Regions from separate parts of the Homo sapiens genome. Here all the other regions are linked to region 2. The links come from fine-mapping of genetic effects on gene expression. A gene starts in region 2. Each other region holds a variant in brackets. All regions are shown on one strand. Distances are from middle to middle. Region 1 overlaps SLC9C2 (solute carrier family 9 member C2 (putative)). Region 2 holds the start of PRDX6 (peroxiredoxin 6). Region 3 overlaps SLC9C2 (solute carrier family 9 member C2 (putative)). Region 4 overlaps SLC9C2 (solute carrier family 9 member C2 (putative)).

Region 1 (5,153 bases), 61 kb before region 2:
TGTCTTCCGAGTTGCCTCAGGTGACAGCCTGGCCAGTGGTACTGCCTTTTGATAGCATGGCTGCCTCCCTCCAGCCTCCTGCTACAGTTTCCCCACTGCTCTTCCAGCTTCCACTAACAGTCTTCTCACTGCCCCCCTACCCTCTGCCCACCACCCAGTTCCAAAGCTAATGCAGTATGTTTTAATTTCTGGAGGCTCTCCACAATTGATACTGATTTTTCCTGTTTTAGTCAGCGTCTGCTGTTTAACCAAGCAACCCAGACCTTGGTGGCTTAAAGCAATGATTTATTATTTCTCATGGTTCTGTGTGTTGGCAATCCAGGTGATTCTATTGTTGGTCTCGCTTTGGATCACTCTTATGCCTGTGGTCATTTCCTAGATCAGCTATGGTTGGAGGGTCCAGGATGTCCTCACTCGCAGGTTTGGCAGCTGATGCTAGTTGTCTTCCAGGGTGCTTTGTTTCTCCCCTCTATGGCCTATTCTGTATAGTTGGCTGGACTGGGCTTCTTCACAGCATGGTCTCTGGGTTCCAACAGGGTGAGAGGGGAAGCCACAAAGCCTCTTAAGTTCCAGGCTCTGGAGCCTGAACAATGTCACTTTTACCCCCATTTTATTAGTCAAAGCAAATCACAAAACCAGTCCAGAGTCAATGAGTAGAAAAGTAGATTACACCTCTTAATGGGGAAACAGCGATGCCAATTGCAAAGTGGGCATGGACACAGAGAGGCATGACACACTGCAGTCATTGTTATAATGACCTACCACATTTACTTTTTTAAACCAACAATCCCATGGAAGGACTTGCTGCATGCTATTTTTGAATAGCTTTCCTAAGAGTACCTTCTACTCTGGCATTCTTCCTGTGTTTATGACCCCTTTCCTTTTCAGTCTCCTCTATGAACTCTTTTTAACCCTTTAATGTTGGTGCACCTCAGGACAATTAACTCTGTCCACTGTTCTTATTTTATAGTCTCTCCTTCTTTAGTCCCAGCTACACTCATGATTTTAACACTATGCATAGATGCTCTACAAATCTGTAATCTTCCTTCCATACCTTTCAACACCAGCTCTTTAGACTCATGAATCCAGTGGTGGCTAGACAGCTTCTCCTTTCACTCTACCTCAAATCCATATTGAACTCATCCCAAGCCTACTGTTATATTCCAAGTGTTAGTGAATTAGACCATTGGTTGCTGGAGTCAGTCCTCTTCCTCTATCCTTCTCCAAGCTCTATCAATCTTACCTTCTAAATGTTTGTCAAATACACCCCTTTCCATTCTTGTGAATCTTAATTTAGGCCGTCATAATCTCTTGTCCAGACGATAACTTTCAATTGGTCCCCTTGTCTCCAATATTTCCATTCTCAAATTATAGTGACTTACTAAAAGACATGTGACTATACCTCCTTCCTGCTTAAAACCCTAAATGACTCCTCAGTGCCTACATTTTCCATTGTGAGTTTCAAAGAACACTTGTTCCATGGGATGCTAATAGAAACTGCATGAAAAAAGAAGTTTCCATGCTCAAATTAGTTTGGGAAATGGTGGCTTAAATAAAGTTAAATGGGTTTCTTTTAGAACTTCTTGTAGAACTCTTCAGAATTTTTAATATGCTGATATACATTGAGATTCTCCAAGAGAGACTATAGAATGCAACATTTTCTTACCCTTTCCCCTGCCCTGCATAGTTTTTCAGGGATTGGGGTTGAAGGAGTATCTCACAGAATGTGTATATCACATTCCAAGAAAAGTTTACCTATGATATTAAGTCAAAGCACAATATACAAGGTATTTTAAAATCTGGCCTCTGACTGTTTCTCTAACTGATGCTCTGCCCCACAACTTGTTTTTTACTGCACTCAGCATACTGTTTCTCACCTCTGTACGTGCACTAGAGATGCCACCCTCTGCCTACCTCTTTCTTCACTCTGCTCGCCCCACGACCATTCTTCATCTGGATAATTGTACTTCTCCTTAAAACTCAGTTGAAGTATCATCTCCTCCAAGAGAAACTCTCTCTGATCCCATCTCTACATCAAGTCTGATTAACACCCTGTGCTGAATGTTATCCCCTTAATTTCCTGTTTTATCATATAAGCATCTAACTTTTCCCCTGCCCCACTAGATTGTGAACCCCTTAAAGCCTTGGACTATACCTCCATTGCCCTAAAACAGGGCTTGGAACAGAGTAGGCATTTAATAAACATTTGTTTAAAGGATGAATGAATAAATAAACAATCCATCATATTAGTAAATCATAATTTTCTTGATCCAGGCCTACTTCTTGATGGGCAGGGCCGGAAAAACTGCAAGTGTAAACACTGGAGGTAGGCCTCAGGACTGAACTTCTGGGACATAGTTTTCTCACAGTGGACATCCTACCAGGGCCATCACGGAGGCTTACAACGTAGGGAAATCCACTAAGTGCTCCAGTAGCCCTCAGAGTAGAGAGAGCCTGGCCATTGCCCCATACCGTTTGGAAGGCAGTTTCAGAATTTGCATATCCTTTATCAAAGCTGTTACTGGTGGATAATTTTTCTGTCTTCTGGAAAAGGAGCTAATGAGTGAATGAGAATTGTCTTGAGAT[A/G]TAAGTGGTGTGAATTCTCTCCTTTCCTGAAATGACTATCATCCCTCAAATTTTAAGACTTGAGAAAATGTGTTAAATGCAGTAGTGGTTGGAGTCAACATTTCTAAACAATGGATAGGCAAAGTGTATGGTCAGTATGTGAGGAAATGTAGGCAGCAGTTCCAGGAGGTAACGCTAACCTCTGAATGTAATGTCAGTGTCATGTAGAAGCTATAATTTTTCTGCTATTTTAGGGGGAGGATTGACACAACAATACAGCCTATCTTTTTCTTTTGATAGTTCTTTGTGGGGCTGAAATGATTAGTTACACTTAGAATTAATACTTTGCACTCTCTATTCTGCTGTAGAAAGATGATGCTACTGATGTTATTTATATTACTGAAGTAAACTCTTTGAGTTGTATATATAATATGCGTATATATGTGTGTGTGTATATACATATATATACATATATATACACACACATATATATACACACACACATATAAATTTTTGAGACGGAGTCTTGCTCTGTTGCCCAGACTGGAGTGCAATGGCATGATCTCGGCTCACCACAACCTCCGCCTCCTGGGTTCAAGCGATTCTCCTGCCTTAGCCTCCTGAGTAGCTGGGATTACAAGCATGCGCCATCATGCCCGGCTAATTTTGTATTTTTGGTAGAGATGGGGGGTTTCACCGTGTTGCCCAGACTGGTCTTGAACTCCTGGACTCAAGTGATCCCCCTGCCTTGGCCTCCCAAAGTGAGCCACCATGCCTGGCTGAGTGGCATACATTTTGATTTTCTAGAAAGCTAAGACCCTTTTTATCTCATAACATTCAGGACTATACTTTATAAAAATGAGTATTCTGTAAACATTTGCATTGAATGATATTTATTTCCTACTACATAATTTTTTGTAATGGCATATTTTGATATATTGAGTTCAGTAATAATAGTGAGGGCTATGTAAGGGTTAAGAAGAATACATTCCATTTATGTTTTGATCTTTTGTAATCTTCATTTAATGTATGTTTAGAGTAGCTTTGAAAAACAGCGTAACAATGGAATTCTTGAAATAGAGGCAGCCCGGATATTAATTGGTGCAGCAAAATGCTATTACTCCATCCAAGGAAAGTAAGTATAACACTTCTTTAATTGATATTTCCAAAATTGAATGACTATATGATGAAGAATGAATAAAATGAGAATTAAATGTCCTGATTGATCAATCTATTATTTCACATATCTGTATGTATCCATCTTCTGTCTGTCCATCTGTCTGTCCTTCCATCCATCTATCCATCTGCTTTTTATTTTATTGGTTTATTTTTTTCCTCTAAAGTTTTATAACCTTGGTGACATTAGGGGAGTCTGGAGAAAGATTGGACTGTCATGTAATTAGATAAGACACTCGGGAATCCATGAAAGGGAACTTATATAACCTCAATAACTATTATAATTATTTTGCCTTTATATTATCTTCACTTTAAATTACCAGACAGAGGAGGTTTAGAAGCCTGGAGGCTGCCATTAGACTGCTCCCTGGGGTGGAGCAGGCTCTGGAAGAATTGACCCAACTGCTGGTGCTGACAAGTGCAATTAAGTCTGGTGGGAAAAGCTCAGTATCTTGGAGATATAACAATATCTGGTTACAGTCCTGGCAAACATTAGATAATAGATGATCTAACACAAAGCTGTGGGGCAATAATAATAGGAGATCCTGGCTGGGTGATAGATAACATTTCAGCAGCCAGGTAATCTATTTGGAAGATCTTTACCAGTCCCTGGAATAAAGTTTGGGAAAGTTAGAGCTTTCAGGGCCTTGGAGAGGGTTGGGCCAGACCAGCATGACAAAGGAAAGCTTGATTCCAAACTCCAAATGGTCTAGAGAAGCTTTACTTATGTTCAACCTCTGGTCAGGAACAGAGGCAGCAGGAGTCTCATGCTAAAACTACTCCTGTACCATGACCATGGATGGATAGGTGGATGGATGCAGAGGCATGAGACTGAGCTTATTTGGTGGGTCCATATTAAATTTATACTTAGTACACCTTCCCCTTTTATATTAACCCAAAGTATAGCACTTGCTTTTTATTATAACACATATGTACATTTTTCTCTGTTAGATTCATGAGTATTTATGATGTTTCAACTTATATGAGAACTAGAAGTTGGCTTATAAAGTTTAAAAATGTTTTAACTTTCTTGGAATATTGTATAGAAAAGATACATTTTATTCCACCTGAGTAAGTATTGTGAACCTTTAATAGAAACATACTTGAAAATACTACCATTTCTACATTGTCATAATAGCTTATCTCAATTTTCCTTATTTGAGAAAAACTATATTATGGTTTATTTTCACTGATTGGGTGGTGCTTGCTTCTCTTCTTCCATTCTATTTTAGCAACTTCATTGACATCTCTATGAGAGAGTAGTCAGGAAGGGAAAAAGGATGTTCATATTTGGATCCTTCAAGTTTTAATTGCTGTGTCTGAGGGTTGTAGTGTGTTGCGGGCTGCTTAATATTCTTCTGGATATAACATAGAGCAGGGGTGAGAAATAGCTAACTGGTAGACTAGATCTA
Region 2 (5,153 bases):
CTTCCCCTCCAAGTCTTCCTACTGCTGCACTTAAGAGTAATTCAGTGACATGCTCCCATTTTCTTACCCATTTTCAAAAGACAAAAGGTTTCCTCCTTCAAGAGAATGGTTCCCACTTACTAAGCCCCAGAAGACCCCTGGAAAACACATATTTTGCTTAGTGAAGATGTACTATGAAGAAGCTGCTTCTACCACTTAAAGAAACAGCGATAAGGTAAACTCACCCAATGTAGCACCCAACCTCTTTAGTTGTTTACAATGATCAGGGGTAAGGTAGAGAAATACATTTTAATTTTTTCTTCTCAAAAATACCTGGATCAAAAATTGACAGTCTGATTTGGGATCATATACAGAATAGAAAATTGGAAAAATCAGGCAAAAATCCATGTGTTATAAACATATAAAAGGCTCAAACTTCTCTTCCCGGTAAGGTAGGGAATACTATACCTGATCCTAGGCAGACTTGTATATTAGTTAATAAATGCAGATATTTCTACCGTGTTCCTAACTATGGCTCCCTGATAAAGTACCACTTTTGATCAAATCTAGATGGATCTAGAGGCCAATAAACATTAACAAAACCCCAAAAAAGTATGGTTAGCTTAAAAAGTGACAGCATTTATAACTGTTGGCACAGTAAATACGTTTTATGCTAATATTTAATCTATACAAGCTAAGAGTTCTGGAAATAGTTTATGTTTCATGGGGATGGGGGATGAGGGCTGCAGGTAGAAATGGGAAGGAACACAACTCTAAAAATCCCAAGGATTGCTGGAGAAATATTACTACCTAGATCCTAAGTATAAGAATGGCCATAAGCTGTATTTCTAAAGTATTTTTCTGCATTCAAGGTTTGAATATTCCATTTCTCAACCTTTTTCTGGCCTAGTCCTATCTTTCACAAAGCTTAACTTTTCCCTATTCAGTGGCTGGAAAAGGGACTTAAGAGGTTATAAAGGGTTGGATAGGCATATGATGTGTAAGAATCTGTCCCTGGTTCTCTGCACAGCCCTGTCCAATCACTGATTAATTTCATAAGCCTGTCTCCCTGGATACTGTATATAAAAAGGATATAATCTGGGGAAGAACTGTTGTCAAGCCTTGGAGCCCCACAGTGTAGTGGGACCACTAGTACTCCAGAACCATAATATAACTAGACATGCCTGGAATGCTTCTGATGAAAACTAAGCAACTTCCAGTTTGCTGATTCAGGAGCTGTTAAAAAAAAAAAAGGGCAACACCGATTTACTACTCCTATCCATAATGGTAAAACTGCCAAGTCAGATCACAGGTCATCAATTTGGCTATCATCAGCAAGCTCATGTGCTAGAAGCAAGGTAGAAAGCGGAGGGGACAGTGAGGGGCAAGCCACTGGAAAACAAGAGAGTCTCAAAGTTGGGGAGTACACGTGTCCTGGAGCCTGGAACGGCCATCACTAGCAAGAATAGGCCACTCCAGCGGAACAGCGTCAGAAAGTCCTTCCCTCCAAGTGTTGCAAGTTCTGGAATCTCTGAAGGCACACCTACGCAGAGTGTTCTTGGCTCTTCCTAAAGCTGTTATCAAATCATATCTTGGCCATTGGAGGCGGCTCTGGACAAAAAGTCTTTCGGCCACCTACTTGGCAGCTAGTGGTTTTAAATTTCACATTTTGTGCCCAGAAGCCTGCAAATACCACTGCACCCTCAGATGATACGTTGGCCTTCCTGTAACCTATAGCCAGCAGCTGTGTCCTCCGACTTTGGCTTTAGACACCCATCCTCCCCAGGGAGCAAATTCCAGAACGGAGGGTGGGAGGGCGGTGCGACCCTGGGCACTAGTCCGGGGAAGTGATCGTCAATGCCGCCCCGCCCCTGCGCCCTCGGCCTGACCACGCTACCTGCACAGTTTACTAAGACGAGTTAAATGGACAACAAACCCTCCCGCGGGCGGTGAGTTTCCAGAACCCGCAGAACACAATTTTATCCTCCCCACCCCCCACCTTGGCGTGGCCTTGCCCAGCCACGCCGGAGGCGGGGAGGCCAGGAGGGATCGAGTGGCCCGCGCAGGGCAGGCCGAACGGGTGCCAGCTCCCAGCAGCGCAGCCGACGCTGAGCAGAGGCCACACGGCCTGGCGCGCGCCGGAACCAGTGCGGGGGAAGGCGAGGGCGGCGCAGGGGGCTGAGCGGCCGGGAGGACGGCAGGGAGAAGAAACAGGGAAGGCACCTCCGAGTCCGGCGCAACCGAGGCCAGGACAGGGCTACGCGGTGGCCACTTACGAGTCTCCCAGAAAGTCGTGGAAACGGATGCGGCCGACGGTGGTATTGGCCTCAAAGTTGGGAGCCACGTCCCCGAGAAGCAGACCTCCGGGCATGGCGACGGTGATGAGGGGGCGCCGCTGGGACAGCAAGCAACCGGTTGGTTCTGGCGAAGAAGCAGCCTGTCCCAGCGCGCGGAGGAATAAACGAAGGCGCGAGGGGCGGGGACTGGGGCGGCGGGGGCGGGGCCGCGGGAGGCCGGCCGCTGGGGGCCGGGCCGCGGGGGCTGGGCTGGGCGCGGGGCGGGGCGGGGCTGGGCGCGGGGCGGGGCTGGGCCGGGCCGGGCTGGGGCCGGGACGCGGCGCGAGCTGGACTACCGCGGTCGCTGTTGGTGGCGCCGCCGGGCCTGCGACTAGGTGGCATCCTTCAGACACTATAGGCCGTCTCTGCACACGTGATGCGGGGCTCGGTCACGTTGCCCCCTGGAAGCTTGAGGATGCGCCAGGTTTGACTCTGCAGGGCGTACGCGCTTTAGGGATGGAAGGAAGAGGAACGCGGCAGGAAGGCGAGCCCCAAGGTGGAGAATCGCCTGGGCGCGCAGGCTGCGGCGGCTTCGCACAGCCGCCCTGGGCGCTGCACGGGTCCGCGCGCACCCTGCTGCGCACCCACTCGCGGCCAGCTCCCTACAGAGGAGTGGAGTGACTGCTCGACTACCACCCCTCTTTTAGTGTGAGCGTCTGGAGTCCTGACCGCCCCAGCCAGCCCAGCTACGATGAACTGTCTAAGAGGATGTGGCAAGACCCAGAAGTATGGGTGACCTTATGTCAGAGGAAGTGGCTTTCTTATTGCAGCAAAAATTCCCGTACCAATGTCAGTGCTAGGGTAATGTAACTAAACTTTTATTTATTTTTATTCTGCCCTCCCCTTTCTGTTTGTTATGAACCATAAAATATTCAACACAATTATCTTGAAATCTAAATATAAAATTTAAAACATACTCTTTGAGACCTACTGTGTGCAGGTCAACTCTGTCACCCAGGGAGGTGGGCGGCTTAGATTCATTTATTTGCTATGAGCCAAGTACAAGGTAGATAAGATGCCTGTCCTCTTGGAGCTTTCCTTCTTGTGAAGGGAAACCGGTGACAGACAATAAGCACACAAACCAAAATATGTTAGACAGCAATCAGTCGTATTCAGAGAACTAAAATAGGGTTATGTGCCTAGAGGGTGACTGGGGGGCTGCTTTGGTTTGGGTGGTCTGGTCTGGGAAAGCCACCAGGATAATGTAGGTAAACTAGTCAGCTCACGGTAGGTGCTCTGGAAATGGTAGCTATCGTTTGGATGATGACACTGGCTCATGCAGTAACTCTTGCTTTGCCTGCTGTGTGCTGGACACTGTGCCAGGCCATACAGTGGAGAAACACAGTCCCTGCTGTTACAGGGAAGGCATATTTATATGCAATTATAATAAAATGTAGGGTAAATTCTGATGGGGGAAGGTGTAAATGATTGGAGTTCAGAGATGAGAAAAATCCTCTGGATGGGGCTGGCAGGTTTAAGGCAGGGGCATGGCAATGTTGAGAGTAGTGACTCACATACTGTGATTTGCGTTTTCATCACAGTGATGTGTTGGTGCGTGCATGCTAATCATATTTACCGAGTTCTTCAGTGACCCAGGACTTGCAGTAAGATTACTGGTAAAAATTTCTAGCCACTTCACAAAACCGTTTAAAGCTAATGTAATTTAATCTCTAATTTGGCTCCAAGTTTTAACAGCTCCTTGTTTTAACTCCCTTTGTAGGGAAGAAAGAGAATAGTTGGGAAAGAAGAGTAGTTTGGCCTAAGGCACTGTTAACAATATGTTGTGGAAATCAGCTAGAAAACACAATACTCTATAAATATGGAGAATGAATACAGAAACAGATTATTGATGTCTGTCAAAGGCATAATTATATTATTGTCTGTTGTAAATTAAGCAAATATAATAAAATACTCATTAGAATTTACAGTGCCAGAAGCTGTACACTGGCAATGCTTCTGCACTCTGTGAACTTGTTTGCTTTAGACTTTGGAGCATTTTAAATTGTCTTGAATTAGCTGTCCACTGAAGGGGGCCAGCCCCTCCACGCCTGTGGGTGTTTCTCGTCAGGTGGGATGAGAGACTGAGGAAAGAAATAAGACACAGAGATGAAGTATAGAGAAAGAACAGTGGGCCCGGGGGACGGCGCTTAGCATACGGAGGACCCGGCACTGGTCTCTGAGTTCCCTCAGTATTTACTGATCACTATCTCTACTATCTCGGTGAGGGGGATGTGGCAGGACTATAGGATAATGGTGGGGAGAGGGTCAGCAGGAAAACATGTGAGCAAAGGTCTCTGTGTCGTAAATAAGTTTAAGGAAAGGTTCTATGCCTCGATGTGCACATAGGCCAGATTTATGTTTGACTTTACACAAACATCTCAGTGCAGTAAAGAGCAGTATTGCCTCCAGCATGTCTCACCTCCAGCCATAAGGCGGTTTTTTCCATCTTAGTAAATAGAATGTACGTCGGGTTTTACACCGAGACATTCCATTCCCAGGGATGAGCAGGAGACAGATGCCGTCCTCTTATCTCAACTGCAAAGAGGCCTTCCTCTTTCACTAATCCTCCTCAGCACAGACCCTTTACTGGTGTCAGGCTGGGAGACGGTCAGGTCTTTACCTTCCCACGAGGCCATATCTCAGGCTGTCTCAGTGGGGAGAAACCTTGGACAATACCCAGGCTTTCTTGGGCAGAGGTCCCTGCGGCCTTCCGCAGTGCATTGTGTCCCTGGGTACTTGAGACTGGAAAATGGCGGTGACTTTTACCAAGCATACTGCCTGCAAACACATTTTTAACAAAGCACACCCTGCGTAGCCCTAAATCCATTAAACCTTGAG
Region 3 (5,153 bases), 94 kb before region 2:
GGATGTGGAGAACTCAGCCACTATGAATTTCACACTATACCTTTCATATTCATTTTATTTACAACAGTGAATTTGGTAAGGTAAGAATAATATTTTAAAGTTTGTTTACTAAACTGAGATTCTCAAGGCCAGAATTAGAATTAGGAAGCAGTGGCATACAGCAAAAAGGGCTCTGGACATGGAGCCAGGAAACCGGCATTGTTATCAAGGCCTTGACAATAGCTTGCTGTGCAACTTGGGGTAAGTGTTTATTTTTCAAGATTTTATCCATAAAATGAGAGGGATCGGCGTCACCCATAAGCTAGACAGAAATGCATATTCATGAGCCCATCTCAACCTACTGAATCAAATCTCTAAATATGAGATCCAGGAAATAGTTTTAACATGCTCTTCAGGTAGTTTGTATGCATGTTAAAGTTGAGCATCACTGGACCAGATTAATTGCTCTTAACATTTTTGTTGAATTTCACCATAATTTATTATCGTCAATAGCTATGAGAAAGCCACTATCATGCTATGTACCAATAGCTGTGATAATGCAGTTACCATGTACTGTATGCCATTGATGTGAATATCACTTTGTGATGTATGTGTTATTGCATCACTTCACAGACGAAGCCCAGAGAATGTAAAAACCTGCCTAGAGTCACTCAACTCATAAGAGCAAATTTGGTATTTAAACCTGACTCCATGAGCATCCTTATTCTAGAATGGCATTGCCCACTGATGGTAGTTGTGTCTTCCATAAGAATTTATGGCAATGTCTCCAAAAACACTGTCATTTTCACTCAGGATGGTGGCCAGGGTAGCTTGTCTTATAGTATGTTCCCATGGAAACTTGAGTCTGCTAACGCAAGGCACTGCATGCAACTCAGATAGTCACTCTCACACAGAAGGCTGTGTACACAGCCCTGAGTGCTACCCCTATCCCCCACCTCATCAGAGTGGGGCCTAAATTGGTGCCTACCTGCTGTTCCCATGCAGCTGTGAAATCAGTAGCCATCTTATCATCTTTTCTCTGCCTCTCTGTCTGGACTCTTAAAAAACAGTTTTTAAGTTAGTCATTGCTCCCTAGTATAATTTAGGTGTTTATGTTTATTTCTGGATCCAAATTCCATCTCCCACACTTGTTAGCTTTGTGACTATGTAACTATGTGACTTTGGGTCATTACTTAATCTAAGTTTCAATTACTTATCTGTAGACTGGGCATAATAATAGATCATCTCAGAGGGTTGCTGTGAGGATTCAATGAGGTAATGCAAGTACAAGAATTTAGCACCATGCCTGGCACATAGTAAATGCTCAGTGAAGTGAGTTTTTGCCATGATTGTGGCTATCCTTATTTTCTCAGGATAAGACACAACTTTTGAAGCTTCAGAATAATGAAAGGATTCCCCAAAGAAATTATCAGTAGGTTTTAAAACAAAACATTATTAATAAAATTAAAACATGAAAACAAACCACCACTGTATTTGTTAATTCTTTCAGCAGATATTTATCAAGCACCTACTAAATGTCAGGCATTGTTCCAGGCACTTAGGACACCTCAGTGGACAAAATACTCTGAAAACATGAAAATTTCTGCCATCATGGAGTTTACAATGTAATTGGGGTTTTCAGAAAAAAAACCAAAATCATGTTAAATGAAGAATATAATATATTAGAAAATAATAAAGACTATGAAAATAAATAAAGCATGGTGAGGAAGTTGGATGTGCCAGCACTAGATGGCAAGCTGCAATTCAACCCAGTGGGCAAGGTAGGCCTCAATGAGAAAGTGACATTTGAATAAAGATATGAAAGAGGTGAGGGAGCCAGGCAGATGGGGGGAAAGACTCATAATTGTACATGCCCTAAGGGAAGGGCCAGCCTGGTATGTGCAATAAACAGCAGGGAGGCCTTGATCACTGAAACAGAGAGAGGGGAGAGCAGGAGATGAGGATAGATAGGTAAGTATGAAAAAAAGTAAGAGAAAGAACCCACGTATGAATACCTTTGTGAGTTAAGAAAACACCTGGAAGGATGTACATCAGCCCCGTAAGAGTGGTTACTTTCCTCTGGGGAATGGGATTTGTGAAGGGGAATAAAGTCAGGGCATTTTAGCTTTTAAAATGTTTACTGAGGATGGAGCAAGATGGCTGATGAATAGAAGGCTCCACTGATCATCCCTCTCACCCCCCTGCAGGAACACCACATTTTAACAGCTATCTGCACACAAAAAAGCACCTTCATAAGAACCAAAAATCAAGTGAGTGATCACAGTACCTACTTTAAAATTCATATTGCAGAAAGAGGCACTAAAGAGGGTAGGAAAAACAGTCATGGATTGCTGACACCACCCCTCCCCAGTCCTCCCCACCACAAAGCAGCTGTGTGGTGCAGAGAGAGAATCTGTGCACTTGGGGAAGGGAGACCACAGCAACTGGGGGAATTTGCACTGAACTTAGTGCTGCCCTGTGACAGTGGAAAGCAAAACTGTGCTGAACTCAGCCAGCACCTGCCCACAGAGGGAACATTTAGACCAGCCCTAGCCAGAGGGGAAGCACCCATTCCCGTGGTAGAAACTTGAGTTTCTCAGCAAGCTGTGGGATACTAAGTGAACTTGGAAGGCAGCCTAGGATATAAGGACTGCAATTCTTAGGCAAGTCCTGATGCTGTGCTGGTCTCAGAGCCAGTGGACCGGGGCAGTGC[G/A]TGACCTAGTGAGACAGCAGACAGGGTGGCTTGGGGAGTATTTGTGCCACCCCTCCCACAGCCTCAAGCAGCGCAGCTCAGAACAATGAAAGTGACTTCTTCCTTCTGCTTGAGGAGAGGAGAGTGAAGAGAACTTTGTCCTGCATCTTGGATACCAGCTCAACCACAGCAGAATAGGGCACTGGGCAGAGTTTTGAGGCCCCCAGTTCAGGCTCTAGTTCCTGGACAACATTTCTAGACACACCCTGGGTCAGAAGAGAAACTGCTGTCTTGAAGGGAAGGACCCAGTCCTGGCAGGATTCATCACCTGCTGACTAAAGAGCTCTTGGGCCTTGAGTAAATAACAGCAATACACAGGTGGTATGCTGTGGGCCTTGGGTGAGACTCAGATGTGCTGGCTTCAGGTACCAGCTTGGCCACAGTGGGGTAGACACCAAGTAGGCTTTTGGGGTCCCAAGTCCAGGCCTAGGCATTCTTGAACTTGCCCTGGGCCAGAGGGGAGACCTCTGCCCTGAAGGGTGAGTCCCAGGCCTGGCAGCATTCATTAAAAGCTGGCTTGAAGAGCCCTTGGGCCTTAAGTGAACATGGGTGGTGGTGTGGCAGAACTCCCTTGGGACTGGTGGTAGTGGTGGCCATAGGGAGAGGCTTTCCTGCCTGTGGAAAAAGGAGGAAAGAGTGGGAAGAACTTTGTCTTATGGTTTGAATACCAGCGTAATCACAATAGAATAGAACACCAGGCAGATTTCTAAGGCTTTTCATACTACTTTTTATTTTTTATTTCTTTTTGGGACAGGGTCTTGCTGTGTTGCCCAGGCTGGTCTTGAACTCCTGGGCTCAAGCGATTCTCCTGAATTGCTTGAGAAGAAAGAATTAGTCAGCTTGAAGACAGACTATTCAAGAATACACAGTCAGAAGACGCAAAAGAAAAAAGAATAAAAAAGAATGCGGCACACCTACTAGGAAATAACCTCAGAAGGGCAAGTCTAAGTGTTATTGGCCTTAAAGAGGCAGTAGAGAAAGAAATAGGGGTAGAAAGTTTATTCAAAATGGTAATATCAGAGAACTTCCCAAACCAAGGGAAAGATATCAATATTCAAGTACAAGAAGGTTGTAGAACGCTGAGCAGATTTAACCCAAAGAAGGCTACCTCAAGGCATTTAATAATCAAACTGCCAAAGATCACGGATAAAGAAAGGACCCTAAAAGCAGAAAAGAAGCCACTTACAATGAAGCACCAATCAAGCAGAAATTCTAGAATAAAAAATGCAAGTGACATACTGAGGAATGCATTAGAGTCTCTTAATAGCAGAATTGATCAAGCAGAAGAAAGAATTAGTGAGCCTGAAGACAGGCTATTTGAAAATATGCAGTCAGAGGAGACAAAAGGCAAAAGTCTGGCAGCAGACTTTTCGGTGGAAACCTTACAGACTAGGAGAGAGTGGCATGACATATTTAAAGTGCTGAAGGAAAATAACTTTTACCCAAGAATAGTATATCTGTGAAAATATCCTTCAAACATGAAGGAGAAATGAAGACTTTCCCAGACAAACAAAAGCTGAGGGATTTCATCAACATCAGACCTTTCCTAGAAGAAATGCTAAAGGGAGTTTTTCAATCTGAAAGAAAAGGATGTTAATGAGCAATAAGAAATCATCAGAAGATATAAAACTCACTGGTAATAGTAGGTACACACAAAAACATAGAATACTATGACACTGTAATTGTGGTGGGTAAACTACTCACATTTTGAATAGAAAGACTAAAAGATGAACCTATCAAACATGATAATTTCAACAAATTTTCAGGACACAGACTTACTGGTAATAGTGGGTACATGGAAAATCATGGACAATTATAACACTGTCTGGCAATTCCTCAAAGAGCTAAAAGAGGAACTGCCATTTGGCCCAGCAATCTCATTATTGGGTATATACCCAGAGGAATATAAATCATTTTACTATAAAGACACATGAACGTGAATGTTCATTGCAGCACTATTCACAATAGCAAAGGCATGGAATCAACCTAAATGCTCATCAATGCCAGATTGGATAAAGAAAATGTAATACATATACACCATGAAATACTATGCAGCCATAAAAAAGACTGAGATCATGTCTTTTGTGGAACATGGATAGAGTTGGAGGTTATTATCCTTAGCAAACTAACACAGGAACAGAAAACCAAACACTACATGTTATAACTTACAAGTGGAGGCTAAATGATAAGAACTTACGAATACAAAGAAGGAAACAACAGACACTGAGATCTACTTGAGGTGGGAGGATGGGAGGAGGGAGAGGAGCAGAAAAAGTAACTATTAGGTACTGGGCTTAATACCTTCATGATGAAATAATAGGTACAACAAACCCCTGTGACACGTGTTTACCTATGTAACAAACCTTCACGTGTACTCCCAAACCTAAAATAAAATATTTAAAAAACGCTGTAATTGTGGTGT
Region 4 (5,153 bases), 41 kb before region 2:
AAATTTAGATACTGAAAAAGTTTAAATTTTTAATGTGATGAAACCATTTCTACTCTGAGCATGACAGCTGAGAGGTGAATATTCAACACCTGAAATGTGCTTCCCATTCTACAAAATGCTGTCATAGTCTTTACTTATTTCCAGCAATCCTGGGAGGAAGCAGGATTTTTCAGAATGTTCAGAGAAGGAAATCAATACTTGGCGTGGCTTAAATTACTCACCTAAAGGAAATAGAATGAGGATCAAAAATACAGCTTTTAATCTGTCTCATGGGAGGCTTTTGTTGACCAGAGAGAGAGACAGAGAGAGAGAGAGGGAGAGAGATTTCAGTAGAGTGATGGGGACAAGAATCCTTTGTATCTGCATAACAGTAGTTTAGTAGCTGGTTTCATGCGTGAGCCCCATTTTGTGAACCAAATAATTCCTAGATCCTGGATGATGGTCATAAAATGACAAATCCTTAATATGGCAAAAATAATACCATTGGCTTTCTGGTTTTGAAACGGGTATATTAGACCTTAAAATATCATGGAAATAAACTACCATAATAAATAGAATACTAACACAATATAACACTTATTTACTATCTGGCACTATTCTAAGCACTTTTCATTCATTCATTCACTCATTTATTCAACAAAATGTTTGCTTCATTACCACCATGTGGCAGGCACTGTTAATTCTAGGCATGGGATTGACAAAACAGACACAAATTCCTGCCTTCTTGGAGCCTAATTTCTAGTAGAGGGATAAAAGGAGATGGGACAATGAACAAAACAAGTAAGTTTACAGTATGTTACAGATGATGGAGGTATGAAGAGATTAGTTGTGATTTTTTAAAAGGTAGTCGAGAAAGGCAATATAAGCTGGGCATGATGGCTCACAGCTGTAATCCCACCACTTTGAGGGCTAGGTGGGTGGATCACGAGGCAGGAGTTTGAGACCAGCCTGGCCAACATGGCAAAACCCTGTCTCTACTAAAAATACACAAATTAGCCGGGCATGGTGGCATATGTCTATAATCCCAGCTACTCAGGAGGCTGAGACATGAGAATCCGAGATCCTGCCACTGCACTCCAGCCTGGGCGACAGTCTCTGTCACTCAGTCTGGAGTGCAGTGACACCATCTCAGCTCACTGCAAGGTCTGTCCGTCGGGTTCAAGTGATTCTCCTGCCTCAACCTCCCAAGTAGCTGGGATTACAGGATTACAGGCACGCACCACCACGCCCATCTAATTTTTGTGTTTTTAGTAGAGACGGGATTTCCCTAGGCTGGTGTTGAACTCCTGACTTCAAGTGATCCGCCCGCCTTGGCCTCCCAAAGTGCTGGGATTACAGGTGTGAGCCACCGAACCAGGCCAACAACCCTATTTTTTACATGAGAAAACTGATGAACAGAAAAAAAAAATTCACTTGGCCCCAACTACACATACTCAGAGGCCAAAGATTACTTTGAACCCATGTAGTCTGTCTCCAGTATCCATGTGCTTAGCCATTATACTATACTCCCATTAGAATTCTAGGACAAACACACTGCTGCCAGTATTTATGAAATACGGCAAGTCCGATACTTAAAAGCTGCAACTTGCTGTAACATGTTTCTTTGGGGATTTTCCTGCCATGACTGGACTAGCTAAACCTTCTTAAACTATAGTCCAATAATGTCTGGTCTGAAGAGGTTATATTAGTACTTTTTTGATACCATAACAAATTACCACAAATTTAGTGCTTAAATATATTATCTCATGGCTGTGTAGGTCAGAAATCCAATGGGTTCTGCTGATTTCACTGCTTGGGTCTCAAGAAGCTGAAATCTAGATGTCAGTAGTGCTATGTTACCTTCTGGAAGCTCTAAGGGCACAATCTGTTTCCAGGCTCTTTGAGGTTGTTGGCAGATCTAGTTATTCTTTACGGCTATTGAACAGAAGTCCTTGCTTCTTCAAGGCTGTCAGCTGGAGCCCACCTTGAGCTCCTAGAGCTTCTCTTTTGTCCTTGCATGCAGGTCCTCACATCTCAGAGCAAGCAAAGGCATATGGAATCCTTCACACATCTCTCTCTGATGGACTCCCTTCTACTTGCGAGGGCTCATGTGATTACAGTCCCCGCAATATTCCCGTCTGTTGTTTAATCAAATACTAATCTGGTACAGCTGTGAAGGGACTTTGTAGATCTTTTTAAGGTCAGCTGATTAGTAGCCTTAACTCCAAAAATCATCTTTTTAAGGTCAGCCAATTAGCAACCTTAATTCCACTACAAAGTCCCTTCACTGCAGTCCCTAGATTAGTATTTGGTTGAACAACAGACAGGAATCTTGGGGGGGCCTCCTTTAGAATGCTGCCTACCTCAAATGCCATCATCTTTTCTTTGTTTGCAAAAAGCAGAGGCATTCTTCATTGCTCAAAGATCCTTTGAATTGCATTCAAAATTACAGCCATTAAAAA[C/A]AAATTCAAACTCTTCTGGAAGCATGAATGCCTTTAAAAGTCTGAATGCTAATTGCTGGGAGAGAATGACCTTTTGCTTCCTGTTTCCTGTGTCTTGAACAAGAACCTTCCTCTTTGATGTTTACAGCTAAACTTTCTGAAAAATTCTGTAATCTTTCTAATCCCAATTCTTTCAGCTTCCCCCTAAAATCTGATACCGCGGTTCTTTCTCCAGCTATGCCTACCAGTTATTTTCTTGAAGTAACTCAACCATCCTATGTTCATCCTAAAACCTTTTCCTGTTGATATTGCATGGTAATTTTTCTAAAGCATTTTAAAAAGAGACAAGGCTTTCATTAACATCATGGCTTGGTTTGGAGGCATATTAATTCATAATATCTGATTTATGTGCCCATGCAATCAAAAGTTATTTCCACCTGATGCATTAGCCCATTGCGGTAAGAATATCTAATGGACTCAATGAGTGATTGCATTAGTTGCATACTATAATTTCCAGTTTTGGTGGGTTTTTTTTTTTTTTCTTTGAGATGGAGTCTCACTTTGTCGCCCAGCTGGAGTGCAGTGGCACGATCTTGGCTCACTGCAACCTCTGCCTCCTGGGTTCAAATGATCCTCCTGCCTCAGTCTCCTGAGTAGCTGGGACTACAAGTATGCGTCACCATGCTCGACTAATTTTTGTATTTTTTTTTAGCAGAGACGGGGTTTCACCATGTTGGCCAGGCTGGTCCCGAACTCTTGATCTTGTGATCCGCCCGCCTTGGCCTCCCAAAGTGCTGGGATTACAGGCGTGAGCCACTGCGCCCAGCCCTGGTGGGATTTTTGTATAAGACAGGTATAAGTAGAAAGTTGTAAATAGGGGTCATCTGTAAAACTAAAGATTAGAAAAAAATCCTTGCCTTGGGGAGTTGAAATGTTAAAGAAATCATGATTTTTTTTTCTTAAGCCTAATTCTTCTTTCACACCTGACAGGAGATCTTTCCCTTCCATTGGAAAGTTGTAAGAAATAGTGGGAGCTCCTATGATTTGATCAAAGGGTTTTTCATTTTTTCTTTCCCTTTGCACACTTTTTTTCCCTTTGCAGTTGCATAGTTTATCTCCTACCTTTGGAATAGAGAGTAATCAAAGGTGTGATAGAGGGTCCAGAGACATGTTTACAGAGTTCTGTACTACTGGGGACATAATTGGAGAGCTAAGCTGTCTGCTTAAGCGTGAAATTGAATATACCGTCATCTGTGAAACTAGTTTACAGGTAGGAAAATGGTTCTGTCATGAGTTATTAATTATTCTTCAAGTAAATAAAAAATACCAGCATCTTTTCTTTTTTGGGGTTTTGACATCTTAGTCACCCAACCAGCTATTGGGAGGTAACATAGCTGAAAAGGCAGATTTAGTGTCTCACATCCCAGGCTCTGCCAAGCTCCACTGCATCCTGCCTAAGGGAGTAGTTATTTAACCTCCTTAAGTCTCAGTGTCCTTGTTTATGAAGTAGAGAGAATACCAACCTTTTGATGTTATGAGGATTAGGAAAACATCTACGTAAAATGCCTGACACATATAGGTGCTCAATAAATGGTCACCATTATGACAACAGTGTTTTTAAAGAATATTTATTTGTTTTTAAAACAACTCCATTAAAAAGTGGGCAAAATATATGAACAGATACTTTTCAAAAGAAGACATACATGTGGCCAATAAGCATATGAAAAAAAGCTCAACATAACTGATCAATAGAGAAATGCAAATCAAAACCACAATGAGATACCATCTCACACCAGTCAGAATGGCTGCTATTAAAAAGTCAAAAAGTAACAGGTGCTGGAGAGGTTGTGGAGAAAAAGGAACAATTACACACTGTTAGTGGGAGTATAAATTAATTCAACCATTGTGGAAGACAGTGTGACGTTTCCTCAAAGACCTAAAGACAGAAGTACCATTGACCCAGCAATCCCATTACTGGGTATATACCCAAAGGAATGTAAATCATTCTATTATAAAGACACATGCACATGTATGTTCACTGCAGCACTATTCACAACAGCAAAGACGTGGAATCAACCTAAATGCTCATCAATGATAGAGTGGATAAAGAAAACATGGTACATATATACCATAGAATACTATGTAGCCCTAAAAAAGAGTGAGATCATGTCTTTTGCAGGAACTATGGATGGAGCTGGAGGCCATTATCTTTAGTAAATTAATGCAGGAACAGAAAGCCAAATATCACATGTTCTCACATATAAGTGGGAGCTAAATGATGAGAACACACAGACACAGAGAGGGGAATAAAACACACTGGGGCCTATTGGAGGGTGGAGGGTGGAAGGAGGGAGAGAATCAGGAAAAATAACTACGGGTACTAGGCTTAATACATGGGTGATGAAATAATCTGTACAACAAACCCTCATGACACAAGTTTACCTATGTAACAAACCTGCATATGTACCACTGAACTTAAAACTTAAAAAAGGAATACTTGTTTGTTTTTAAACTTCCTTCTATGTTTCATTTGCTAAGTAAGAAGTTATCTATTCAACACCTAAGTGTCCTGACATTTCACTAGGTGTGGGGAATTCAAATAGAAATGAGCCAAAGACCAAGGGACAAAGTGGTTCGTTAAATGGGTCCTGCTCCCTGTGCCACCCAACTGGGTGATACCCTCCAATAGGGGTTATCAGACACCCTATACAGGAGCGTTCCTACTGGCATCAG

The links. PIP is the estimated chance that this variant, and not a neighbour inherited with it, causes the effect.
Region 1: its variant is the best candidate, but not a certain one, in a credible set for the expression of PRDX6 in whole blood (TOPMed, PIP 0.84).
Region 3: its variant is the best candidate, but not a certain one, in a credible set for the expression of PRDX6 in whole blood (TOPMed, PIP 0.57).
Region 4: its variant is the best candidate, but not a certain one, in a credible set for the expression of PRDX6 in whole blood (INTERVAL, PIP 0.61).

What each region holds. Positions count from the first base shown.
Region 1 is chr1:173,535,489-173,540,641 of GRCh38, reverse strand. SLC9C2 (solute carrier family 9 member C2 (putative)) reads left to right here. Exons shown (of 28, transcript NM_178527.4): 14 at 3,603-3,700; 15 at 4,693-4,812. Among named protein-coding and RNA genes, the nearest start is that of PRDX6, 61 kb to the right of the region's middle. The variant A/G (reference allele first, on the strand shown) is at 2,587.
Region 2 is chr1:173,474,595-173,479,747 of GRCh38, reverse strand. It overlaps PRDX6 (peroxiredoxin 6), which reads right to left and starts at 2,413. Exons shown (of 5, transcript NM_004905.3): 1 at 2,256-2,413. The coding sequence starts at 2,350. It overlaps LOC100506023 (a long non-coding RNA gene), which reads left to right and starts at 2,593. Exons shown (of 3, transcript NR_037845.1): 1 at 2,593-3,116. RefSeq lists enhancers at 2,215-2,374, 2,872-3,408 and a silencer at 2,445-2,614.
Region 3 is chr1:173,568,109-173,573,261 of GRCh38, reverse strand. It overlaps SLC9C2 (solute carrier family 9 member C2 (putative)), which reads left to right. Exons shown (of 28, transcript NM_178527.4): 9 at 1-80. Among named protein-coding and RNA genes, the nearest start is that of SLC9C2, 32 kb to the left of the region's middle. The variant G/A (reference allele first, on the strand shown) is at 2,693.
Region 4 is chr1:173,516,074-173,521,226 of GRCh38, reverse strand. SLC9C2 (solute carrier family 9 member C2 (putative)) reads left to right here. Exons shown (of 28, transcript NM_178527.4): 23 at 3,523-3,690. Among named protein-coding and RNA genes, the nearest start is that of PRDX6, 41 kb to the right of the region's middle. The variant C/A (reference allele first, on the strand shown) is at 2,442.